Homo sapiens: one gene and its partners. The protein of the gene in region 3 interacts with the protein of the main gene of each other region in a pairwise test. Each region holds a gene or a part of one and is shown on either strand. Other genes may lie near its edges. The genes, in order: ZNF251, TLK2 and FEZ2.

Region 1 (8,274 bases), on a different chromosome or scaffold from region 3:
TGTCATTGATAACATCTTATCAGGAGACAGCGTTTTGAGAGCAACCAGTCTCACCAAAATTATTAGGTGGGAATTTCCTCTTCCTAATAAGCCTGGGAGCGCTATGGGAGACTGGAGTCTATCTCATCTCTGCAGTTTCGACCATAAGAGACAGGCGCACCTGGGGGGACTGTTTATAAGCCTATACCTCCAGGTGCGTATTCTCTTTCTCAGGGATGTTCCATGCTGAGAAAAAGAATTCAGCGATATTTCTCCCATTTGCTTTTGAAAGAAGAGAAATATGACTCTGTTCTGCCCGGCTCACTGGAGGTCAGAGCTTAAGGTTATCTCTTATTCCCTGAACAATTGCTGTTATCCTGTTCTTTTTTCAAGGTGCCCACATTTCATATTGCTCAAACACACATGCTCTACAATTTGTGCAGTTAATGCAATTATTACAGGGTCCTGAGGCGACATACATCTTCCTCAGCTGACAGGATTAAGAGATTAAAGTAAAGACAGGCATAGGAAATCGCAAGGGTACTGATTGGGGAAGTGATAAGTGTCCATGAAATGTTTACAATTTATGTTTAGAGATTGCAGTAAAGACAGGCATAAGAAATTATAAAAGTATTAATTTGGGGAACTAATAAATGTCCATAAAATCTTCACAATCCACGTTCTTCTGCCATGGCTTCCGCCGGTCCCTCCGTTTGGGGTCCCTGACTTCCCGCAACAAGGTAGCTCCCGCCCCTCCAGCTTCTTTGTCCTTCCAATCTTCCTGGGATCAGACGGAATGCACTGGGGTCTGCTCTTTGCCATGGCAGAGGCCTCTACATATGACTGGGAGGGTCAGTTTCTCATGACAGTTAGCAGGCGCTTGTGGCTGCAGATGCAAAATCATGGTCCCTAATCGGCTTTATTATTATTTTATTTATTTTATTTTTAGAAATGGGTTCTCACTATGTTGGCCAGGCTGCCTGAATTCTGGTGTTTTTGTACGTGGAAACTGGTGATGCAAGTACTGAATGTACCTCAGGCAGCTGGAGGAAGATACAGACGGATTGCCATCCGTCCCCCAGGTTAAGGATTCCCAATGAAGTCACTCTCTTCCCACCACTCCTCCTGAGAGGGTACGGTGGAAGGAAGGGTCTGAATTTTCCTCCCCAGAATTTCCCAAGACACAGGTATATTTGTCATGAATGTGAGGAGTGAGAACAAGGGCCTGCCCCGGCCCCCAGTCTGATTGCCCTCTCCGGCACTGCTTGCCGTGGGTGTTAGGCCCGCTTAAATTTTTGTTGTTGTTGTTGTGGTTGTTCTTCATGGAGTCTCGCTCTGTCGCCCAGGCTGGAGTGCAATGGTATGATCTCGGCTCACTGCAACCTCCACCTCCCAGGTTCAAGCGATTCTCCTGCCTCAGCCTCCCGAGTAGCTGGGATTACAAGCGTGCACCACCACACCCGGCTAATTTTTTGTAGTTTTAGTAGAGATGGAGTTTCACCACGTTGGCCAGGCTAGTCTCAAACTCCTGACCTCAGTTGATCCGCTCACCTCGGCCTCCCAAAGTGCTGGGATTATAGGCGCGAGCCACCGTGCCCAGCCAATGGGTAAATATGCTGAGTATGTATTTCTAAAGGTTTGAACACAGAAGAAAGGTCTGAGATGGAATTTTTTTAAGTGGGGTAATTTACATGTAAGTAGCAGTTGAAGAAATGAGACAAGGTAAGCTCTCTTAGAGGAAAATGTAGAATAAAGTAAGGAGAATGCGCAGGGCAGACACTGAGTAGAGGAGAAAGTAGCAAAGGAGATTGAGAGTGGTTGGCAGAAAATGAAGGAAGGGTGGTATTATTGATGATAAGGAAATCAAGTGTTCCAAGAAGGACAGACAGTTCATGGTGTCAAATATTGCTGAGAGGTCAAGTAAAGGAAAACTAAAAAATGCCCACTGGTGGCCAGGCACTATGGCTCACACCTGTAATCCCAGCACTTTGGGAGGCCAAAGCAGGTGGATTACTTGAGGTCAGGAGTTTGAGACCAGCCTGGGCAACAGAGCAAGACCCTGTCTCTACCAAAAAAATACAAAAAATTAGCCCGATGTGGTGGCACGCATCTGTGATCCCAACTACTCATAAGGCTGAGGTGGGAGGATTGCTTGAGCCCGGGGAGGTGAAGGTTGCAGTGAGCTGAGATTGTGCTACTGCACTCCAGCCTGGGTAACAGAGAGAGACCTTGTCTCAAAGGAAAAAAAAAGCCCACTGGTTTTAGAAACAGGGAGGTCAGTGGAGTAGGGAACAGCTCTGTTCTGGGCCCTGAGGACCTTGGACATCTTCACATAGCTGTGTGGCAAGGTCCATCACCGTGTGAACTGAGTTTGGCAGAATGCTTGGAGGTTCCTCCTGAAACTAAGGGAGACAAGCAACCTTGTAAGAAACGACAGTGACAGCAGCGCCCCTGGGCCCCTGGTTGGCTGCGTCTGGGATGCTCCCTTTGCCCCTCCTTGGGGTACAGCTGCGGACACACCACTGCCTGGCTGCAGTGTGGAGCTGGCGCCTCAGCAGCACCGTGGCCACCATCTGTGCTTTCTGTCATCTGGCCCCTATGGTTTGCTGTCATCTTGTGTGTCTAGGGACACAGGCTGCTGATCATGCTGTAGCTGTTTGAGTAAGAAATAAACAATCTAGGCTGGGCACAGTGGCACACACCTGTAATCCTAGCACTTTGGGAGGCCGACGCAGGTGGATCACTTGAGGTCAGGAGTTTGCCACCAGCCTGACTAATATGGTGAAACCCCGTCTCTACGAAATACAAAAAAATTAGCTGGACATGGTCCTGCATGCCTGTAATCCGAGCTACTTGTGAAGCTGAGACAGGAGAATCACTTGTACCTGGGAGGTGGAGGTTGCAGTGAGCCAAGATCTCACCATTGCGCTCCAGCGTGGGCAACAAGAGTAAAACTCCACCTCAAAAAAAAGAAAGAAAGAAACAATCTCTATCTTTTGTGCTCATTGCTGATCAAATCCATGTAAATATGGCAAACCAGCCTAGCATCTGTGGCAGTTGACGCCGGTAACCCTGTCAGCTGCTGGATTGCTGCCTAGGGACTGCTTGGATGCTTGGCAGTTGGTAGCCCTGTAAATAGGAAATATCCATTAGGAGAGCCTGCAGCCACCAGTCACAGAGTGATTACACGCCCCCTGTAGGAGATGTGAAAAAGAAAAAGAGGAAATCAAATATTCTGCAATCTTACAACTAGTAATGATGTATTTATTTTCAGCTTTTTATATACGTTTTTCAAGCACTTCCCAAGTATTTATAGAGTACTTACTATGTTCCAGGCTGGTGGCTGAGCAGTGAACAAACCAACCTAGGTCCTTATATCTGGAAACCTTAAGTTTGTGAACTTAAACACCCATATATACAATTGAGATCATATCATAAATATAATTTTGTATTCTATTTTTCACATTCTATTTCATAAGCATTACCCTCTGCCAATACTTTTTTTTCAAATACCACACATAATGGCTGCATAATGTTCAACTGAGTGTACAGAAGACAATAGATTTATCTATTTCTGTGCTGCAAAAAGCATAATTATCTTCCATTTCCCCTTCTATGAATAACTAGCTATTTTCCAAATTCTCCCCATTATTTAAAAAAAACCACACACACAACAAACTCTGGAATGGGCACCCTTCTCTTTGTCATTTTTGTTATTTCCATAGGATAGATTCCTAGATTAATTGAAGTGTTTAAGGCTCTTTATGTACAGCTTAATTCATTTTCAACATTGTACTAAACACGCTTCCTCAAGCATAGCAGTGCGTAATTCTCCACAATCTCCCCAGCACTGATATTAATAATGTAAGGCATCTTCTTAATCATGTGTGACTTTGCATGGTGCTTTAGACTTCTAGACATTCTCCATCCTCGTTGATCGTCTCAAGTTCAGATATAAAATTTCTGCCTTGATTCTAACACAGTGTACAGGGCCTACACTATATTCTGGGTGACAAGATGGCTTGGCTTTCCTTTCCTTCTCCCCCTGCTCCTAAGCTGGTCTCCTCACCTTTATCAAGTGCTATTTTTTCAACCATGCTTTATTGTGTAGGGGCCAAAGGGAAAGTTCCTCTTTGCCCTCTGAAGGTTCACTGAAAGCCAACTCATAAAAGGCAGATTTTTGGAGAAAAGGCAAATAAATGGATTATTTATTTATTTATTATTTATTTTTGAGATGGAGTCTCGCTCTGTCACCCAGGCTGGAGTGCAGTGGCGCGATCTCGGCTCACTGCAACCTCCGCCTCCCGGGTTCAAGCGATTCTCCCGCCTCAGCCTCCGGAGTAGCTGGGACTACAGACGCCCGCCACCACGCCCGGCCTTTACCGCCAGTTTTCACACAGAAAAGCGGGGGGAACATCAGAGTCGTGTTTTTAGGTTTTGTGGCTGGCTTTGGGGGTCTGGCCTCTGGGACTCGCCTTGGGTAAAAGGGATTCACTCTGTGAGGAGCCTCGCGGGAGAAAAGAACTGAGACTGGAGGCCTGGGAAGGTCAGAGGGAAACTGCCTCCCAGGCCTTCATTTTGGGGCGTTGTGTTCTGAGCCCCGATAATTGTAACATCTTCATAAGCGACTTTCTGGTGGTTATGGTGAATCGGGACACACGATGTATGGTGACCGACGGGGGAGCCGGGAGCCCAGCGGGGTTAGGGTTCAGGTGAGGGTTTAGGGTCGGGGCGAGCGCGGCGCGGCCCGGATGCGCAGCGTCACCGCGCCAGACCCTCCGCTCAGCTGCCGTGGGCTCTCCCCCTCCCCGACCATAGACGGCGCAGGCCTCCAGTCATCCCAGAGCGGCCCCGGAAGAATCCGGGCGGAACCGCGGCTGGCTTCCGGTTCCCGGCGTTCTCGGAGGCGTACTGAGGCCCCGCAGGGGGCGGGGAAGCCTGCGTGTGCGCAGCTCGGCCCGGCCCGCCCTCTTCATCCTAGCCCGCCCCCTCCCCGGCTCTGGACCCGGTTCTGTGGGAGGGTCCGTTCCGGGCTCGGTGCGACTGCGCAGCTCCTCGGCGCTTCCTCGGTGGCTTCCCCGGGTCGAGCAAACAGGTGGGGCAGTGTCGGACCAGGAAGGAGCGCCAAGCGGGCAGGCAGGCGGGGAGGGCGCGGGGAGGGCGCGGGGAGGCGGCGGCCAGTCCAGGAGGAGCCTGTTCTGGGTGCCGCGGGAGCCACCGACGGGCTGCAGAGGCCGGGAGGAGGCGACCGCGGCGCGGCCCTAGAAGGCTGGACTGAGGACCACAGCTGGCTTCCGGCCTCTCCCCGGAGCCTGGGGCCTTCGGCAGCATCCCCGCGGCCTCCTTCTCACGTCCTCAGCCTTGGTGAGGCTGCACCCTCACGTGGCTCTTTGCCCCAGGTTGGCCAGGCAGGTAGAACGGCCCTGCACCCCATTTCCAGGGCCTTCAGCAGGTCTGGACCACGGGAACTGCCAGCTTTCACCCCTTAGCCGGGCGTCCCTGGATCCCCCCGGGCTCTGGCTCTGGCCGTTCTGGGATTTCAGGAGTCACTGAGCAGTAGGGCACGTCGGCCCGTGCTGCATAGTGACCTGCCTCCCGCGACCCAGGAGGCCACAGCAGCAATCAGCTTCTGCCTCCTGGCCATCCTTCCACACCCCTGGTTGAATGGGGCTGAGCCTGAGTTCTCCCCACTGAAGGTAAGTTCGGGGAGACTTCAGGCCAGGGCAGTCTCCTGTCTTCTCTTGGAAACCACAGCAGCCCATGCACACAGAATGGCAGCCACATTCCAGCTTCCAGGGCACCAGGTGAGTTAACCCTCCTTCCTGCCCACCTCTTCATCTTCATCCCCATCCCAGTCAGAAGCTACTCTCCTCTGGAGCCGTGAGCCCGGCAACTGGTAAGGCCAGCCAGGGGCTCATAGCAACCGTGAGGAAAGGGTTCTGAGAGGTAGACTCGCCCTCCTGCAGGGAGAGGGGCTCTGAGCTCAGCTGGGTCCCCGTGTAGCTGAAGTTGGCTGGTCCTCAGCGCTCTCAGCTGCCCCATCAGGGACCTGCTGATACACAGTTCATACTGACCACAGCAGGGCCCTGGGTAGTGGGGCCCCACCAGGTCAGGGCCCTTTTAGTGCAGGCTGCTGCCCCGTGGGCATGGCCTGGGCAGCGGCGATGTTTTGTTGCAGGAGATGCCGCTGACCTTCCAGGATGTGGCCGTGTACTTCTCTCAGGCGGAGGGGCGGCAGCTGGGCCCCCAGCAGCGGGCGCTCTACCGGGATGTGATGCTGGAGAACTATGGGAACGTGGCCTCTCTGGGTGAGGCTCTCTGCACTTGGCCTGGTTCGCAGTGGGGGCCTCTGAGGAGCTTGGGAGGCTGCTTTGGCTCTTTGGATCCCAAAGAAGAGGGTCCTGCCCCTTGTCCCCGGGTATCAGTCTGATCTCTACAGAAGGAACATTTCCCATGGGAAAAGCCTGCCTTGCTCCCCAGTTCTAGGGACTTCACTCCCTGTTGCCAGTGGCCCCACTGGTGTCCCTCCAGTGGCAGGAGAGCTGATGAGTGGATTCTCCTTCAGTACTTAGTCTCAGCCCACGGGCCCCCTGACCAACACACGTGCAGGCGTACACACGTGCACACAGGGCCCATCTCTCCACACCTGGCCTGGAAGGCCCAGTGGGCCATGCCAGCTCACCAGTGTCCTCATCCTCAACAGGATTCCCTGTCCCTAAGCCGGAGTTGATCTCCCAGCTGGAGCAGGGGAAGGAACTTTGGGTCCTGAATCTTCTGGGAGCTGAGGAACCAGATATCTTGAAAAGCTGCCAGAAAGGTGAGAATGGATGGGATGCTAATCCTGGGAGCAGCCTCCCAATCCTGCCTTAAGAGGCTCCAAGCGAGGGACAGCTGGGGCATGGCGTTCATATTAATGGCCTCCCCCAGGGGCAGTCTCACAGATACAGCCCCTCTACAAATGTGAGCATGTGCACATGCTTTAGAAGTTTTATCTTGCTGGTCTGTTTCTTTGCTTTAAAAATATATATATACTACTTCTGATCATATTTTTGTTTTGGTGATTTACCTTGATAACAACTTCATTCCCTTCTTTATAATACACTTATTTCCTTTTGACAATAGATATCGGTACCCTACCATGTCCTTTTTATTCTTCACTCCATTCTCTCCTTCATTTGCCAAGTTTAGTCAGTAGTAGTCTTTTTTTTTTTTTTTTTTTTTTTTTCGAGACAGAATCTCACTCTGTCACCAGGCTGGAGTGCAGTGGCACGATCTCGGCTCACTGCAACCTCCACGTACCAGGCTCAGGCAATCCTCCCACCTCAGCTTTCCAAGTAGCTAGGACTACAGGCACATGTCACCATACCTGGCTAGTTTTTTTTTTATTTTTGTTGAGACAAGGTTTCACCACGTTGCCCAAACTGGTCTTAAATTCTTGAGATCAAGTGATCCATGTCGACCTCCCAAAGTGCTGAGATTACAAGCATGAGCCACTGCACCTGACCAGTGGCTTTTTTTAATGTTTACCTTTGTTCTATTGAATATACATCTACTACTTGATATGTCAGCTGTAAGTATTATCTTTGACTGCCAGCTACTGAGACAGTCAACAAGCTTGTTCTACTTTTCTCCCTTTTCCTCCTCATTCCTTTCCCAGTTTTTGTTGGTTATATTGTTTCTACACTGTCAGAACATATAACACTTTACAACTCATATCCGCAGCTTTGTTACTGGCTTATATCTCCAGTTAAGTATGTTATTAATAATTGTTTATCTCTGGTCCTTTTACCAAAAATTTCCCCATCTCTTGGTTGGCTGGAGCTTGTCTTCTAGTTTATTCAGAAAGGCTCGTGAAAAATATACCCCATATTTGTGCACATTCAAAATTGGTTGAATAAAGCATTTGGTTTCTACATGTAAGAGCTAAGATTGTAAAATTATATCGTTTTCTCAAAGTGCAGCTTAAGTTGCATCTCACAAAATTTTAATATGTTGTATTTTCATTAACATTTAGTTCAAAATGTTATCTAGTTTTTCTTGTGACTTCTTCTTTGACCCAATGATTATTTGGACATGCATTAATTTCCAGATAGTTGGTGTTTTCCTAGTTATCTTATTGTTATTGTCATTTAATTCCACTGTGGTCAGAGAACATACTCTGTATTATTTCATTCCTTTCATATTTGTTGCTTCTTGTTTTATGACCCCAAATGTGGTCTCTCCCAGTACAAATACCACGTGCACTGAAAAAGAATGTGTATTCTGCCATTTGGGGGTTAGATAAATATCAGTTAA
Region 2 (7,972 bases), on a different chromosome or scaffold from region 3:
TAGAACTATGCAGATTTCTAAAACACAGCTGAAGATAACAATAAAAAATAGAGGTAAGGACTCTAGCTGCCCTGTACTCTTTGCTGATGAACATCAAAGCTAGATAATAACCATACAAAAAGATGAAAAATTCTGCTTGAAATTTATTGAAATGGGAGGCATATAAGTAAAAATAAGTTATTAATTTGGGGGCTCTTATCAAAGAGACCTGAAGCAGAGGGACTGTTATGTAGTAGGAGTCATGGGAAAAAAACAAAACTGAACTTGCTGCAACAGTTCTTTCTTAATGAGACTTACATCATGAACTGCCCTGGCTCCAAAGATAAAGGTATTGTTTCTCCAGAGTATTTAATCCAACACGCCCTCCTAAACCCAGTGCTGCTTGGCCAGGACTCTTTTTTCCCACACCTACCCAGGCAATCAAAAGTCAGATGTTATTAGCCTTTCTTGGCTGCTGTGAAATTCTCTAACTTTATCAAATTAAAAGTCACTTATAAGACCAAAGAAAACCCACTAATACTGTCTCCTAAAAGTTAGACATACCTGGTTTGAGGTCATAGTGTATGATGGGAGGTTTTATTTCATTTAAGTACTTTAAAGCATTCACAATCTGCATGATAATGGACCGGGCCTCTTTCTCCGACATTAATTTGTGCTGTTTCAGGTAGAAGTCCAGATCATTTCCCTCACAGTATTCTAATACTGTACAAAACCTAAAGACAAATAAACCAATATTTAACCATGGAATAAGAGCAAGCAGATTAACACTACCTAAATTAGTCCCATGTGAAAACTTCAGGTCATCAGCTTCTCACTCCTTTCTTCTTTGTTCCTTAAAATACTCTTCAATTGTTTATTCAGTATTAGCTGAGGGGTTTCTGGTAAGAAACTGCTTATTCTCTTGAAGAGTTTCCACACCCTCAATGTTGGAATCTGTTGTGCTCAAGTTCACCCATGGCAGACCTCTTCTTGAGTCTAGACTATAAGAATACTGATAAGAACTATAATGTATTTAAGCTAGGTATCTTCTTGGAAGGGGCTCCTTTACACACCCATGCCACACATCCACGTCTAAACAACCAGAATGTGATCAAGTACACAATTCTCTCTTTTTTTTTTTGAGACTCCGTCTCACTCTGCTGCCTAGGCTGGAGTGCAGTGGCGCAATTTTGGCTAGGTACACAATTCGCACTGCAAACATTTTATATAACCCTGAGTGCTGGCAATGAGTAAGAATCTAGAGTTTGCCCACGTCCCAAAAACTGACTGCATACTACGTCTTCTGACAGCTTGGCACAATACTGCACTACAATTTCTCTTAAACACAAGGTGTAAAAGAGCTTGTAAAGTATAGTATCTATGGTTCTAACAAAAGTATGTGGGTTCTCTTTCCTTCCCTTATGTCAATATGTCATACAGACCCATACATAAAACCATATGCCATTGGTGGCATCACAGGTCACGTGTCTATCTTCCAAGGCATTATACTCTGAAGTAAGGTGTCCTGAACTGTTTGAATATTCCTGAGGGATGAATACGTTTTGAAGTTTTCTAAGTTGTGACAATGTGGGTGTATCAGTCAGTTTAGCCTGGAAAAAAAAACCACCTGAACATTTAAAACAGAGAGACTTTAATTCAGGGAACTGATCATACAGATGATGGAAGAGCTGAGAAGACAAACTGGTCAGTGAGGCACCCTAGAGATCATCTACAGCAGGAAGCCATTAGCACCCTCAGGCAAGCAGGCCAGAAGGGAGGAGATGGTGAAACCAGAACCCAGGGTCATCAGGGGAAACTAGAATTGCGGGGAGGGAGAGGAGGTGGAGACCCCCTCCCATTTCTGCCTTCCCATTGGCTGAAACCAACAGAACACCAATGGACACATGGGCCTGATAAACACAGCCTACACGGGCTAACCCCCCAAAGATACAGAGCAGCGAAAGGGCGAGGAACAGAACTGAGAGCAAACAGACTCAGGTCTAGCGCTATGGGCCACTGAGCAATTTGAGGCCTTCATAAAGCACTGCAATTGAACATGGACACACATGGTCCTGTGGACACCACAAACTGAACAATATCTTATGTATCTTAAGAAACATGGCAGGGCATGCTAACACCCTATTTGAAAACAAATGTCTGCTGTAATCCCAGCAATTTGGGAGGCAGAGATGGGTGGATCACTTGAGGCCAGGAGTTTGAGACCAGCCTGGCCAACATAGTGAAACTCTGTCTCTACTAAAAATACAAAAAATTGGCCAGGTATGGTGGCGCATGCCTGTAATCCCAGCTACTTGGGAGGCTGAGGCAGGAGAATTGCTTGAACCCATGAGGTGGAGGTTGCAGTGAGCCAAGATCATGCCACTGCACTACTGCCTGGGCAACAGAGCAAGACTCCATCTCAAATAAAATAAAATTAAAAAAAGAAATGTCTGAAATTTATAGATTCCTCTGATCTGAGATTCTGAAATCTGAAATATAGACTCATGCTCAATGGAATGATTCTTTCACCCAAATGCAAGTTGAAAATAAAGCCTCACTTTCAGCCAGGCGCGGTGGCTCAAGCCTGTAATCCCAGGACTTTGGGAGGCCCAGGCGGGCGGATCACAAGGTCAAGAGTTCAAGACCAGCCTGCCCAGCACGGTGAAACCCTGTCTCTACTAAAAATACAAAAATTAGCCAGGCATGGTGGCGTGCATCTGTAATCCTAGCTACATGGGAGGCTGAGGTAGGAGAATCGCTTGAACCTGGGAGGTGGAGGTTGCAGTGAGCCAAGATCGCACCACTGAACTCCAGCCTGGGCAACAGAGTGAGACTCCATCTCAGGAAAAAAAAAAGGAAAACAACCAAAACAAAAGAAAGAAAAGAAAATAAAGCCTCACTTTTAATACCCAAACAATTCTCAGAAGATGTTCTAAAAATCATGGTCTGACTTATTTTTGGTGAAAATTCATCATACATACAATAGGAAGAACAAAGTAATCAACTCAAGAATAGTATAGAACCAACTCAATTTCTCACATTAGTTAAAAGTGTGTATACAATTCAAAACAGCAGATAATTTGAGCCTGATATTTAACTTTGAAATAGTTCTTGAACTTAATAGTTCAGAGAGGGGGGTCTACCTAGTATTCAAGAAATTTGCTCAAGGCAAAACAGTAATGTCATGCCCCGCCCCTTGTTTCCCAATCCTGCCTTCTAACTAGATCTTTTTAAAAAAATTCCACTCCACGTGAAACACACATGGCTAAGCTCAGTGCCAGGGCTACCCAAATGAGAAGAAATCCCTGAGAGAATGGCCCAGGTCATGTTTCCAAAGGGAATTATAGTCCTCTTTGGGGTTATTTCTAAATGTAAGGCAGCTGTCTGCACAGCCATATCTGAGACTGTTGGCTAGAACAGACCAAAACTCCTAGAATTACCCTGGGAGGCTGAGGGAACCTGAAGTCTAGACCTAGGGTATATTCTGATTCAGTTCAGACTTCTACAGAGAAACATTTCCAAATGCTGAGATATATCCAGCTAAACTGCTGGATAAACCCAGAGGCACGGGAGGTTACCTATACCAAGTAACAAAATATAGCAATGCCCACAATTAATAACTATCTCAGACAAGTTATTTAACTTCTCTGGTCCTCAAAATCCACCTATAAAATGAAAAGGCTGGACTCTGAGATCCCTTCCTATTCTAACATCCTATAAGCCTATGAGCCTGTATTTCAACATGTAGCACTGAGCCTTGTCTTCATTAGTGCCACATTTCTTATCTCAGTCTAGGATAAAATCACACGGCCAGTACTTTTTAAAAAGGTCTGTCAATGTTCATAAGAGTCTCTGGGGTGAGCAGAAACTCTCTTGAACAGTCTACACTCACTAGTGCACGTCAGTGGCATGCTGGCACCAACTCATGCCAGTTTCCAAGAGCTGACTTAAATTTTCAAGAATTTTGTGAGCTGGTTATCAAACCGTTATAAGCAAAATGTGGTATATCCACACAATGGAATATTATTTTGCCATAAAAAGGAATGAAGTACTGACACAGGCTACAAGGATGAAATTTGACAACACCATGGTAAGTGAAAGAAGCCAGTAATAAAAGTCCACATACTATATGATTCCATGCATATGAGGGTCCAGAATAGGAAATCTATAAAGATAAAACAGACAGATTAGGGCTAGGGCAGAGGGATGGAATGGTGGAATAGATGAATAGTAGTAAAAGGTATGATGGGGTTTGAGATGGTGAAAAAATTCTAAAATTGCCTCTGGTGGTTGCATGTATCTATGAATATGCTACAAACCACTAAACTGTATATTTTACATGTGTGAATCATACAGTATGTGAATTATAATTAAGATGTTTAAAAAAAAACAAAAATAAACAGGTGGTACATCAAAATTAGACACAGGAGGAATATCTACACCACGGAAACTGGCAAACACTATAAATTAGCCCTGTCTCTCTTCATACCAAGCTGGCTGTTAAACATTTACTGGCACACAAGTGCACATGTCCTTTGGCCTAGAGGTTTCTTGCTGATCCAAATCTGAATTTATGTTTGATCATTTGTCACAAATTACTTGGTTCCCTCAGAGGGTATGTCCTGGACCCAGAGTTCAGCTCTATTCCATGAACAATCAGCATTGCAAGAAAATAATATAACTGTTAAGGTAAAACAGCACAGCACTTACGAGTCAGTATCCAGTGAAAAGTAATCATACAGCTTAACTATTCTGGGATGATCCAGCTCTTTATGAATCCGGTATTCCCTACATGCATGCCTGTAAACAAAAGGGAAAATTAACAAGAAGGTATATTGGCCTGCCTTTTAGAACTCTTCAAAGATCCTCCTAAATATTCAATCATTTCTCTATTGTCTCCACATGTTAATTCCATTCAGGTCCATCTGGTCCCTCATCTGACTTTTCTCTTTGCTCATCCTATTTTCTCCACTGGAATCTACCAAGCCATTGAGAAAATAATAGGTGCTCTGGCTGGGCGTAGTGGCTCACGCCTGTAATCCCAGCACTTTGGGAGGCCGAGGCAGGTGGATCACGAGGTCAAGAGATGGAGACCATCCTGGCCAACATGGTGAAACCCCGTCTCTACTAAAAATATAAAACTTAGCTGGGCGTAGTGGTGCGCACCTGTGGTCCCAGCTACTCGGGAGGCTGAGGTAGGAGTCACTTGAACCCAGGAGTTGGAGGATGCAGTGAGCTGAGGTCGCGCCACTGCACTCCAGCCTGGTGACAGAGCGAGACTCTATCTCCAAAAATAAAATAAAATAAAATAACAGGTGCTCAAATATTTGTTAAGTGAATGGATGTCAACCCTTTTCATCCCTTTCAAGTTCATTCTATGATAATCACACCTCTTTTCCACGTATACTCAAGTATCATAGATTTTAAAATAACAAGGACGGTTATTTTCCCCCCTCCTCTAAAGCTGATACATCATATCTGTAAATGTATATATGCTCGGGTAACATCAAAGGGGTCATTTTTAGCATGTAAACCCCTTAGGTTAAAGCATTATCTGTTACATAAATCAATTAGCAGTACTTTGTATTTTTTGTTTTTAAATCCTTCTTACAAAAACAATTTAAGTGCTATTAGCTTTACTTTATTCTAATAAAATATGAAATGTGAAATTATGGAACCCCAGTTTTCTTAGAATGGCGAATTTGATACAGTCATCCACTGCAGAACAACCCTTCGGTCAATGATGCTAAGCCACACATATGACGGGGTCCCATAAGAGTATAACAGAGCTTCCCATGAACTGAGGAAGAAAAAAAAAAAAAAAGTACAACAGAGGTGAAAAATTCCTATCACCTGGTAACCCAGCAGTCATGATGTCACCACACAATGCATTACTCGCGCTTGTGGTGATGCTGGTGTAAACAAACCTACTGTGCTGCCAGCCATATTAAAGTCTAGCACCTAACAATTATCTACAGTATATAACACTTGATAATGATAATAAATGAATACATTATTGGTTTATGTATTTACTATACAGCAGGCCCTTAAATAACATCATTTTGTTATAACGCTGATTTAAAAAAAAAAAAAAAAAAAAAGGGGGCCAGGCACGGCAGCTCATGCCTGTAATCCCAGGACTTTGGGAGGCCAAGGCGGGTGGATCACCTGAGGTCGCTGGATCACCTGAGGTCAGGAGTTCGAGACCAGCCTGACCCAACATGGTGAAACCCCGTCTCTACTAAAAATACAAAAATTAGCTGGCCGTGGTGGTGGCCACCTGTAATCCCCACTACTCAAGAGGCTGAAGCAGGAGAATCACTTGAACCTGGGAGGTGGAGGTTGCAGTGAGGCGAGACTGCGCCATGGCACTCTAGCCTGGGTGATAAAGTTAGACTCCGTCTCAAAAAAAAAATCAATTCCTGGTCGGCACCACTGTCCATGTGGAGTCTGTTTGTTCTTCCCCTATCTGTGTGGGTTTTCTCAGGTTATTCTGCTTTCCTCCCACATCCCAAAGGCACATGTGTTGGGTTCACCGGCATACCCACATGGGGTGTGTGTGTGTGTGTGTGTGTGTGTGTGTGTGTGTGTGTGTACCCGCCCTGCAATGGGATGGCATCCTGTCTAGGGTGGCTCCCACCTTGCCCCTGAGCTGCTGATATAGGCTCTGGCCACCCTCAACCCTGAGTGGGGAATGAGTGGGTAAATGTTACCTTGTTTCTATTAAACTTTCTTAAATGTATATAAAGCTCATATACATTTCAACGTTTAGTATTAGAAGTGTTTTAGTCTTTATTTAGAAGCTGGGTAATGTTTTTGTGACCAGGAATATGCCACAGGAACTTAACTCTTGTTTATGTCAATTAGCCTATGGTAAAATTGGTTTTGTTACACCTTGTTTCCCTTAAAGTTGTAGTTTCCAAGAACCTATCACTGCTACTAAGTGAGGGCTTATGTACTGCACTTTTTTTGTTTTTGAGATGGAGTCTCGCTCTGTTGCCAAGGCTGGAGTGCAGTGGCGCGATCACAGCTCACTGTGGTCTTTGCCTTCCAGGTTCAAGCGATTCTCCTGCCTCAGCCTCCCAACTAGCTGGGATTACAGGCACATCCCAGCACGCCCAGCTAATTTTTGTATTTTTAGTAGAGAGGGGGTTTTGCCATGTTGGCCAGGTTGATCTTGAACTCCTGACTTCAAGTGATCCGCCTGCCATGGCCTCCCAAAGTGCTGGGATTACAGGCATGAGCCACGGCACCTGGCCTGCACTGTACTTTTTAATTATTTAAATTTTAGAGAGCAGGGGCGGTGGCTAACGGCTGTAATCCCAGCACTTTGGGAGGCTGAGGCAGGCGGATCACTTGAGGTCAGGAGTTTGAGGCCAGCCTGGCCACCATGGAGAAACTGCGTCTCTACTAAATATACAAAAAGCAGCAGGGAGCGGTGGTGTGCACCTGTAATCCCAGCTATTTGGGAGGCTGGGGCAGGAGAGACGCTTGAACCCAGGAGGCAGAGGTTGAAGTAAGCTGAGATAACACCACTGCACTCCAGCCTGGGCGACAGAGTGAGACTCCATCTCAAAAAAAAAAAAAAAAAAATTTAGAGTGTACCACTTCTACTTATTAAAAAAAAAAAATTAACTACAAAACAGCCTCAGGCGGGTCCTTCGGAGGGTATCCCAGGAAAAGGCATTGTTATCATGGGGGTGAAAGCTTCATGCATGTTATTGGCCCTGAAGAGCTTCCAGTGGGACAAGATGGAGATGGAAGAAAGTGATATTGATGGTCCTGACCCTGTGCAAGCCTAGGCTAATGAGTTGTGTGCCTTAGTTCTTAACAAAAAATGTTTAAAAATAAAAAAAAATTGTAATAGAAAAAAGCTTATAGAATAAGGATACAAGGAAAGAAAATATTTTCATACAACCGTACAATGTGATTTTTTTAAGCTAAGTGTTATTATGAGAGTCAAAAAGGTTAAAAAAAGGCAGTTTCTACAGCA
Region 3 (7,972 bases):
TCAAAACTTAAATACAAGATTCTAAAAGTGAATGGCAATTTAATGGTTAAAATTTGACCAGTGGTGAAACAAGCAGCAAGCTACAAAATCCATCACCACCAACAGTTTCAATGTTAGCACTAAGTATTAAACCAAAGTAATGCATATTCTGGTTTTGCTTCTTCAAGAACAGCCCGTTTATTCTGTTTCAATCTCTCTGAACAATACTGGTAGGTAATAGTTACACTGACAATTCTCACAAAAAAACAGTGTTGGTTCTTGCCATCACTGAATTTATAGTATAAATCTCCCAAGGCTTTAATCTAGTTCATCAGTGCAGTTTAGATAAGAAAGCCATAAAAACAAATGGGCATACTGTCAGTTAATGAGAAATACAACTGCACATGCACAATTAATATTACTCTCTCTTAATCTACTAAGAGAACAGTTTATTAGTAGATTTAACAAAAACCATCTCTAGAATTCAAAATAGTGCCCATATTTCCGTTGGTTCTATAATATAAAGAATTAGTGTAGTCAAGATCTGTTAATACTGAATCAAACCCAAGTTCAAATGTGCTGAGTTTCCAATAGCAAGAAGGGTAATGGTAGCCAGCTCTCAGAATAATGCTGTCGGAAATCTAGCTTGGAGCCCACCGCAGATAAAGTTGCTGCTCTATGTAGGACACAGAACTAGAAGAAAAAGAGAACTTTTAGCTACAAATGTATATTTTGTATACATTTACACAAAACATACATTTTACATGTACATTTAAAAACCATTAAGTAATGAGAACTAAATGTTAATGCAAAGATCTATGTAGCAATTTTTTAAAGGTTTTAAGAGGCTATACCCAACAAGGATGAGTTCTCTCAACACACATTAGAATTTCCCAGAAATGAGATACCAAAAGGCCATGTCTCTTAGGGTGCCACTTGGAGATAGAAGCCCCTAACATTCGCCCTATACCATGAGGCTTGTGACACAACAAACAGGATCCCTAGGGAAGTCAAAGAAGGGTGCAAGTTTCTGCACACATTTTTATTCCTAACTAGCAGCACGGCAGCAGCCACGCGTACATTACTTCAGAATCAGCCTTGGGTACTACTGTCAAGGCAGCAGTGGCGGCAGGCTGCAGTGGGGTCATTAGGCAGGTGCGAGAAAGAGAAGCTCAATTAGCCCATACAGTGCCCACCCTACTCCCTTTTCTCAGGCCAAATGAGACCACTTTTCTACCTTCTTTCACTTCTGACATTTGCATTAAAACTAAGTGGTGTATTTAGGCAGCCAAGCCACACTCTCATCTGTGTTAAAACAACAACAAACCACCCAAAAAAGGGGAAGGAGTATTCTCCCCTTGAGCAATATCCCCCTCCCGGGCAAAGTGTCGTATTATTGGTCCCCAAGGAAGAGGAACAGTTAACCAGCTGTGAACTTTCAGGATGGGTGGAAAAGAGCATTTTCAATGACCCGACTTCCCCACCTTCCCACACACATTTGGGTAAATACATCTCCACATTGCACTCCCGTCTTCATTTTCTCTGACTACAGTCTCCACTGTAGTCTAAATCCTTGCTGCTTTTCCACCCAGTCCTCACAATACAAAGCCAAGACAAAACCACAACACATGCACACAGACAGCTCATCAGAAGCAGGTACAGTATAGATAGAACTGGGCTTACAGACAGGAGCCAGCGGCCCGAGCATGAGGAGCAGAATTAGATGGGTGCTGCTTCCCTAAGGCATGCGGTATAGGTAGGTTCACAATTATAGTCCTAGGTTTTCAGAGTAAAGAATTAAAAATCATTTTTCCCCAGAGGACTCTGTTCTTTGGGTCATAACATCCTTCCATGCAGTTAAATGCTAAAATAGCTAGAGAATGCTTCAGAAGCTCATTCTATCTCTGGCCCTCATAGAGGCCTAGGAACCCGATATAATTAAAATTTAAGACATGTTCTTTATGTTCGTCTCATTCCTGTTTCACATCTAGAAGAACGAACCTCAGAACAATCCAGCTTTCATACCAATGCTAGCACAACACAAAAGCAAACAAAGATGTCAGGTATTAAAAAAAAAATTTTTCAGAATTTTATAGGGAGAAAAAGTCCTCCATCAGAAAAAAAGCTTATTTTTTAAAATGATGTCAACTCAGTCTGTTCTACTCCAGTGTCAACCCACTAGTGTCTAGCTCATGCTTCTTACTCTCACCGCATCAAGACTCTTACAAGTGAAATGTGTGATTCACTTTGAGCACCCTGTGTATACTACTGAGGTTCCCCTTTCATGACACTATGGTTTAAGAAAAGACCATCAGAGGTTTCTAATGTCTCAGAAATCTTCATCTTCCTTGTGCTCAGCTAACTTTAATGGAGAAGAGAGAGAACCCAGAGAAGAAGACTGTTACTAGAAGAGGATTGCTCTCAAAATTTGATCAAACACTACAAAGATGCATTTTGTGATGCTTTCAAAATCTGGTCCCTGAATACCTGCTACTTTAAAAAAATATTTCATCGTAAAGTATTAATTTTGCCTCTAATTAAGTTCTTCCGTCCCTTCTTTATCATCCAAACTTTGCTCTTTTCTCGGCAAAGCAACTCAACCTCTCACTCTTCTTTTGCCTCATCAATATTCCCACCCTGTGTGAGCCTCACCTTGCCTCTAAGATTTGTGGCTGCTTTTTCACTTTCCTGGGTTTATGCAAGTCCATTCTTTTTATTTCCCCGCTTCCCTCCCTGTGTCTTACATCAGTCCCTTTCGTATTCCCTTTGGCACTGTTCACAGATGTGACTCTTCCTTCCTTCATCCGTCCTCACTAATGATCTGTCCTCCTTTCCACTGTCCTCAAGATGACAGAGACCACCCTTCTCAAATTTCCCAGTGCCAATCTGCCAACATCTGATACCCACATGATTATGGTGCCATCTCACTAATTTTCTTCTACTACCTCTCTTGATGTTTATAGTTTAACTGTGGAGATTATTTCCAACCCAGAACCTCCAATAAAACTTAAATTATATAAAACCATGATATATAATGTTGGTAGAAGTCAGTCATGTAGCTAATCCTCACCCTGCATAATAAGATTAATGAAAGTTGTGCATTGGGAAGTTACTGTCTAATGTATTAGCAAGGCGATGTATTTACTGACTAATCCAAACCTCCCAGCCATCGCACCTATACCATTATAAAACTCACCTTTCAGAATATAATCAGTTAACAAGCTCGGAACTTTTTCACTGTCCTCCTTCATGGCACGAAGAACTGCAAAATAGAAGAGGGGAAAAAAGACAACAATTAAAAATTTAGATCAAAAATATTATTTAATTTCAATCATTGTGGCCTTAATCTTCCTTAATTATAGGATATAACTGACTCATACAAATTATAGGTGATTTTCCTGATAAGGGGATACAACAATAAAGGCCCAATAATTTATTTTAGTGGAGTAAGTCCACAAGAATTTATTTTCGGTAAGAATATCCCACTTACCTGAGAGTTGCTTCCCTGATTTAAAATTTCCAAACAGTGGAGACAAAAAAAGAGGAACTGGGTTATTTACAAGGAGCCTTCGCTCTGTAATAATACCGGAAAGTGGGTTACTATAATGTGCACCTCAATGAACTCTGTGCAGCAAGAAAACCTCAGTGCTGCAGATCAAGCAAACTAGAGAAACTCTTAAAGAAATGGACAGCTATACCCTCCAACAAGCGTATCCTGTCAGACTCCTTAGAAACTTTCAAAGAAAAGACCCAAATGAAGAACAGACTTCCATGAAGCAGCATCGGGCATCTGCCTGGCTGTTGCCTCCTCTGCACTAGGGAGAAACCTGGGAGAATTAGCCTCATTCTAATTTGACAAATTTATCTTCTAAGTAAAAACTAAAATAGAAAAAGCAGCCACCTAGTATAACGTTTTTCTTTTTTAAGCTAGACCATTCAGGTTGAGATAAACTCACAAATATTATACTTTAACAGAGATTGCCAACTCAAATTTTCTCCAAAGCATCCTGGTAAAAATATTTCACTGTTTTTCCCCACCAATACGACAAGGCAAAATAGTGTAACTGTCAAATCAGCCTTCCTGGGTTTAAACCCTGGCTCTGCCACTTCCTAATTGTGTGACGCTGAGCAAGCTACTTAACCACTTTTGCACCAAGCTCTTCATCTGTGAAATGAGAATAATAATTAGATTTAATCTCAAAGGTTTGTTATGAGGACTAAGCTACTAATTCAGATATAAAGGTCATATCATAGTGCCTGGCACATAGTACATGCTATGTATTAACTGTAACTAACACTACTCAAATTATTTAAATTTTTATTAACTATTATTATTGCACCCAAAATCCCCTAATAGCTTTTATCAGGAAGACTATATATCCATAAACACTGTGACTGTCTCCACAGGGCTCTTCTTTTGGAAAGAAAAGGAGCTTTGGACCCAAATATGTCCAGAGATTCCAAACTGTGACAACCTATAAAGACATCTCGATGCTGGAATTATGATGACTTTAGTTTGACCAATGAAGTATTTGTTCTTGATCTGAGAAGCTGAGGCCTGCCAGTAATTCCTGGCTTATGAGCAATATTTATGTTCCCTTCTTTAGAGGGCTACCATGTTCAGTATTTCTGCTTCCAATCATGTTTAAAATTTTTTCTAACTTCTAAATAAAATCACATACCAAAAACCAGCATCATTAAAAGTATAATTGCCTGGGAATTAAGAGATCCAGCTCTGTAACTAACCATCCCCCTGTGTGATCTTGGACACATATAACTTAAGTTCTTCCTGAAAATAAGAGGGCTAGCTACCCAGTTAATCTCTTGATTTTTTATTTCAGACTGGCTGGCATCACTTGATTTATCCATATTTAAATATAAAATTTTTAAAGAATTATTCACCAAAGGAAAGAATAAAAGCTCCAAGTTAGCAGGCAGGGAGCTAAGAAATAAGACACTTGCTTCTACTCTTAGGTTTTCCTTGCCCATTCCTCTTAAATTTCCAAAATAAGTATCATCATCCATACTCATCCATGTGATGCTCTTTCATTTGGTTCCCCCCTAATTAGCAAGTATCATAAATATTTACCATAACAAAGACCTAACAGATCAGCAAATTCAATCCCTCCATTTTAACGGCTAATTGATAGTAACTTAGCCAAAATCATACATATATTAATCTATTTACTGTGAGGTAAATAGAACAAATATTTTTTATCCTAGTTTTTCAATGTAAGCAAAAGAGAGTAAGTAACTTCCAAGGATATCCCTGAAAATAACAGGGATAGAACCAGAATTCAAGGCTCATTTGCGGCCATCATAAGAGATACTCAATATCATGTATATTTAAATCTAACAATTTTTTTTTTAAGGCAAGCCCCTTGAAGGTGCATTATCTTTGTCTGCTTTGTTCACTAAAGTATCCCAAGTGCCCAGATCATGGCCTGGTACAGAGTAGGCCTTCACTAAATATTTGCTGAATGAATGCATGTTCTTAAAACATCACTGTCAATTTATGTTCTACCTATAACTACTACCTCGGGTTCTACATTCATAAGAAATAAAAAGTGTTTACCGTAAATCTTTCCTATTCAGTTACTGACAATCATAGATATATAAGATCCATAAGGAATTTTATTTATGATAAATGGATATGTTCTTAAACATGTAAGAGATGATGGAGATTTAGGTTATGCTTTTTCCCAAAATTTTAGCTCATAAATATTTCACAAGGTAAGAAAAACAGAAAAAGTACAAATCAACACTAGAGTTACTGTTGTATTTAATGTCACAGCCATTTTTGGCTTCATTCTTATAAAAATAAACAATTATATGCATCATTTACATCCTAAACTGACAAAACACTAACAACAAAATCAGCCAACTAAAGTCAGGTGTTTACCAATCAGCAAAAGGAAATCAGGTAATAGTTTCATTTTGTCTTTGCTCACTTTTTGTTAATATTTGAAGATCTTCAACAGACGGTGGTCCGTTTTTTTTCTCATAAGGAATGACTGTAGTCAAATACTGCCAAGTTTAAAAAAAAAAAGTGTCACTTAAATCGGAATTACCTTATCTGCAAAAAATTTGATACTGTTACTAGAAGGTCTATCTGATAATATAAAACACAAGCTACTTTGGTAATGAAAACACAGGTATTGTATGGGAATAAAGTTATCTTACTATCTCAGATGGAGCTCATTTTTTTTTGCCCACCTCTATTTGCTTCATACAAACCTAATGTCAACAGAAACAACCACCTTTTTGCATTTCAGTTATTGAAAATTTCATAGGACTAAGTCTGAGGATGGTTTACTCAATTTGTTCATTTTTAAAGTGAAGTATTATCTCACATTCTACTTGCATATTTTTCAACACATTTTAAAAATAGCAATTTAAACTAAAAACATAGTTTTAACAGTTCTGCACAATAAAGTAATTTCCAACAGCAAAATAATTCTGTTTCAGACCATTTTTATTCTGGTTGAACAAATGGTCCACATATATAACATGACAACTTTGAAAAACACACACTAGCTTCTTTCAGAAGCTAACAAAGACACACTTAAATCGTTTTAGAAATGCGTTACTATTATTTTAAATTATTGGGTAAGTCATTGTAAACGTTTTTAGGCATTAAAGGAGAAAAGTTAAAGTAGAGAATGGCCTAAGGGGAAATGAATAATGAAAATTAATGTCTGAAATTGAGATAAACTTCCTAGTTCACTACTTGTAAAGGCTCACAAGTAACAGCGCCATGTCTTTTAACTAATCCCATGAAAGCATAATCCATAAATGATTGTCCAGATTTTCCTGTTCTTACCATCCCACCAAAAAAATAGTTCCGTGCATTTCACATATGCTCATATAGAAAGCCAGTGGTTTTTACCTGGAATCTCTTAGCTCCACCCATTATTTAACCTCGTGCCCTAAATCTCAGCTCTGTGGCTAATCCTCACTGAGTGATCTTATCCTGCCCATAACTGAAAAACAGGATAAAGAAAGCTGCTTTACAGTAACTGGATCCCTAAGTCCAGAAAAGTGGTAAAACTGCATAGTTCAATCTCTGAGACACGTTAAGTGTCCCACCGTCTTTTTGACGTAGACTTCTTGCAGGTGATGCCCAATTGTATAATCGAATGTTTCTTTGTAAAGAACAACAACAACAAAAGGCCAGAAATGATGTCCTCCTGGCTTCACTCTGCATGTGTGAGGCAACCTGGAGAGGCACCAGGCGGCTGCACCCTGGCCCGCTCTCTGGCTACCTGGCTGCATCTTCAGGCCTCCCTGCTCCACTGACAGTCTGGAAGATTCCTTGTCTTCTTTTGAGGTTGAGAGAGGTGAGAGGCAACGGAATGAAAACAAAAACTCAAACATCCCTTCATGGAGCTCATTGATGAGCTGCAAATGTCAGTGTGAGGCTTCCCTCTTTAATAGGAATGATCTCCCTTCCGGAGAAACACTTAACTACCTGCAGTAAAAACTCCAGGCATTTGATCTAGGCGTTCTTTTGCTAAACTTCCTACAAGCTACATTTTGTACACCTTCTTAATCTGCACAGAAGAGCTAACTTAAAGACTTTTCTTTTTCAAGGTGAAAATTTCATATAGTGAAAGGTAATTTTAAGCATACCCATTAATGTGAATGTTTCCCATGTTCATGATATTCCTTCAATCATTATACAAAAATGTGAATAAAAAGCAAATTGCTAGATACTTGATTATATATTCATATCTGTGTATAATTTTGTATAAATAATGTCGCATGCCTCGTTTGGCAGACAACTGAGTTGGCTGACTATGCAATACACCTTAAAAACACATGAATTTCATTTAAAGGAGGTAAGATACACTCTATACATATTTTTGACCTAGAACTCTAGTCTCAAACATACCGACATCTGGCCTTCTTCCCCCAAAAATGACATCTTGCGACTTAGACTTTTAGAATTAGAGTCACATATTTTAGTTTAGTTATTTTCACAAGCAGATTT

What was found.
Region 1: the proteins of FEZ2 (region 3) and ZNF251 interact in a two-hybrid assay, tested with the Homo sapiens proteins (one study listed by BioGRID).
Region 2: the proteins of FEZ2 (region 3) and TLK2 interact in a two-hybrid assay, tested with the Homo sapiens proteins (one study listed by BioGRID).

The regions. Positions count from the first base shown.
Region 1 is NC_000008.11:144,752,205-144,760,478, reverse strand, and holds the start of ZNF251 (zinc finger protein 251), read left to right. Parts: upstream 1-4,947; 5' UTR 4,948-5,074; intron 5,075-5,102; exon of another isoform or gene 5,103-5,675; 5' UTR 5,676-5,750; coding exon 5,751-5,783; intron 5,784-6,157; coding exon 6,158-6,287; intron 6,288-6,682; coding exon 6,683-6,796; intron 6,797-8,274. UniProt on the Homo sapiens protein: May be involved in transcriptional regulation.
Region 2 is NC_000017.11:62,593,392-62,601,363, reverse strand, and holds part of TLK2 (serine/threonine-protein kinase tousled-like 2), read right to left. Parts: intron 4,780-7,972; coding exon 4,690-4,779; intron 714-4,689; coding exon 544-713; intron 1-543. UniProt on the Homo sapiens protein: Serine/threonine-protein kinase involved in the process of chromatin assembly and probably also DNA replication, transcription, repair, and chromosome segregation. Phosphorylates the chromatin assembly factors ASF1A and ASF1B.
Region 3 is NC_000002.12:36,552,508-36,560,479, forward strand, and holds part of FEZ2 (fasciculation and elongation protein zeta-2), read right to left. Parts: intron 6,007-7,972; coding exon 5,931-6,006; intron 3,242-5,930; coding exon 3,176-3,241; intron 673-3,175; coding exon 656-672; 3' UTR 1-655. UniProt on the Homo sapiens protein: Involved in axonal outgrowth and fasciculation.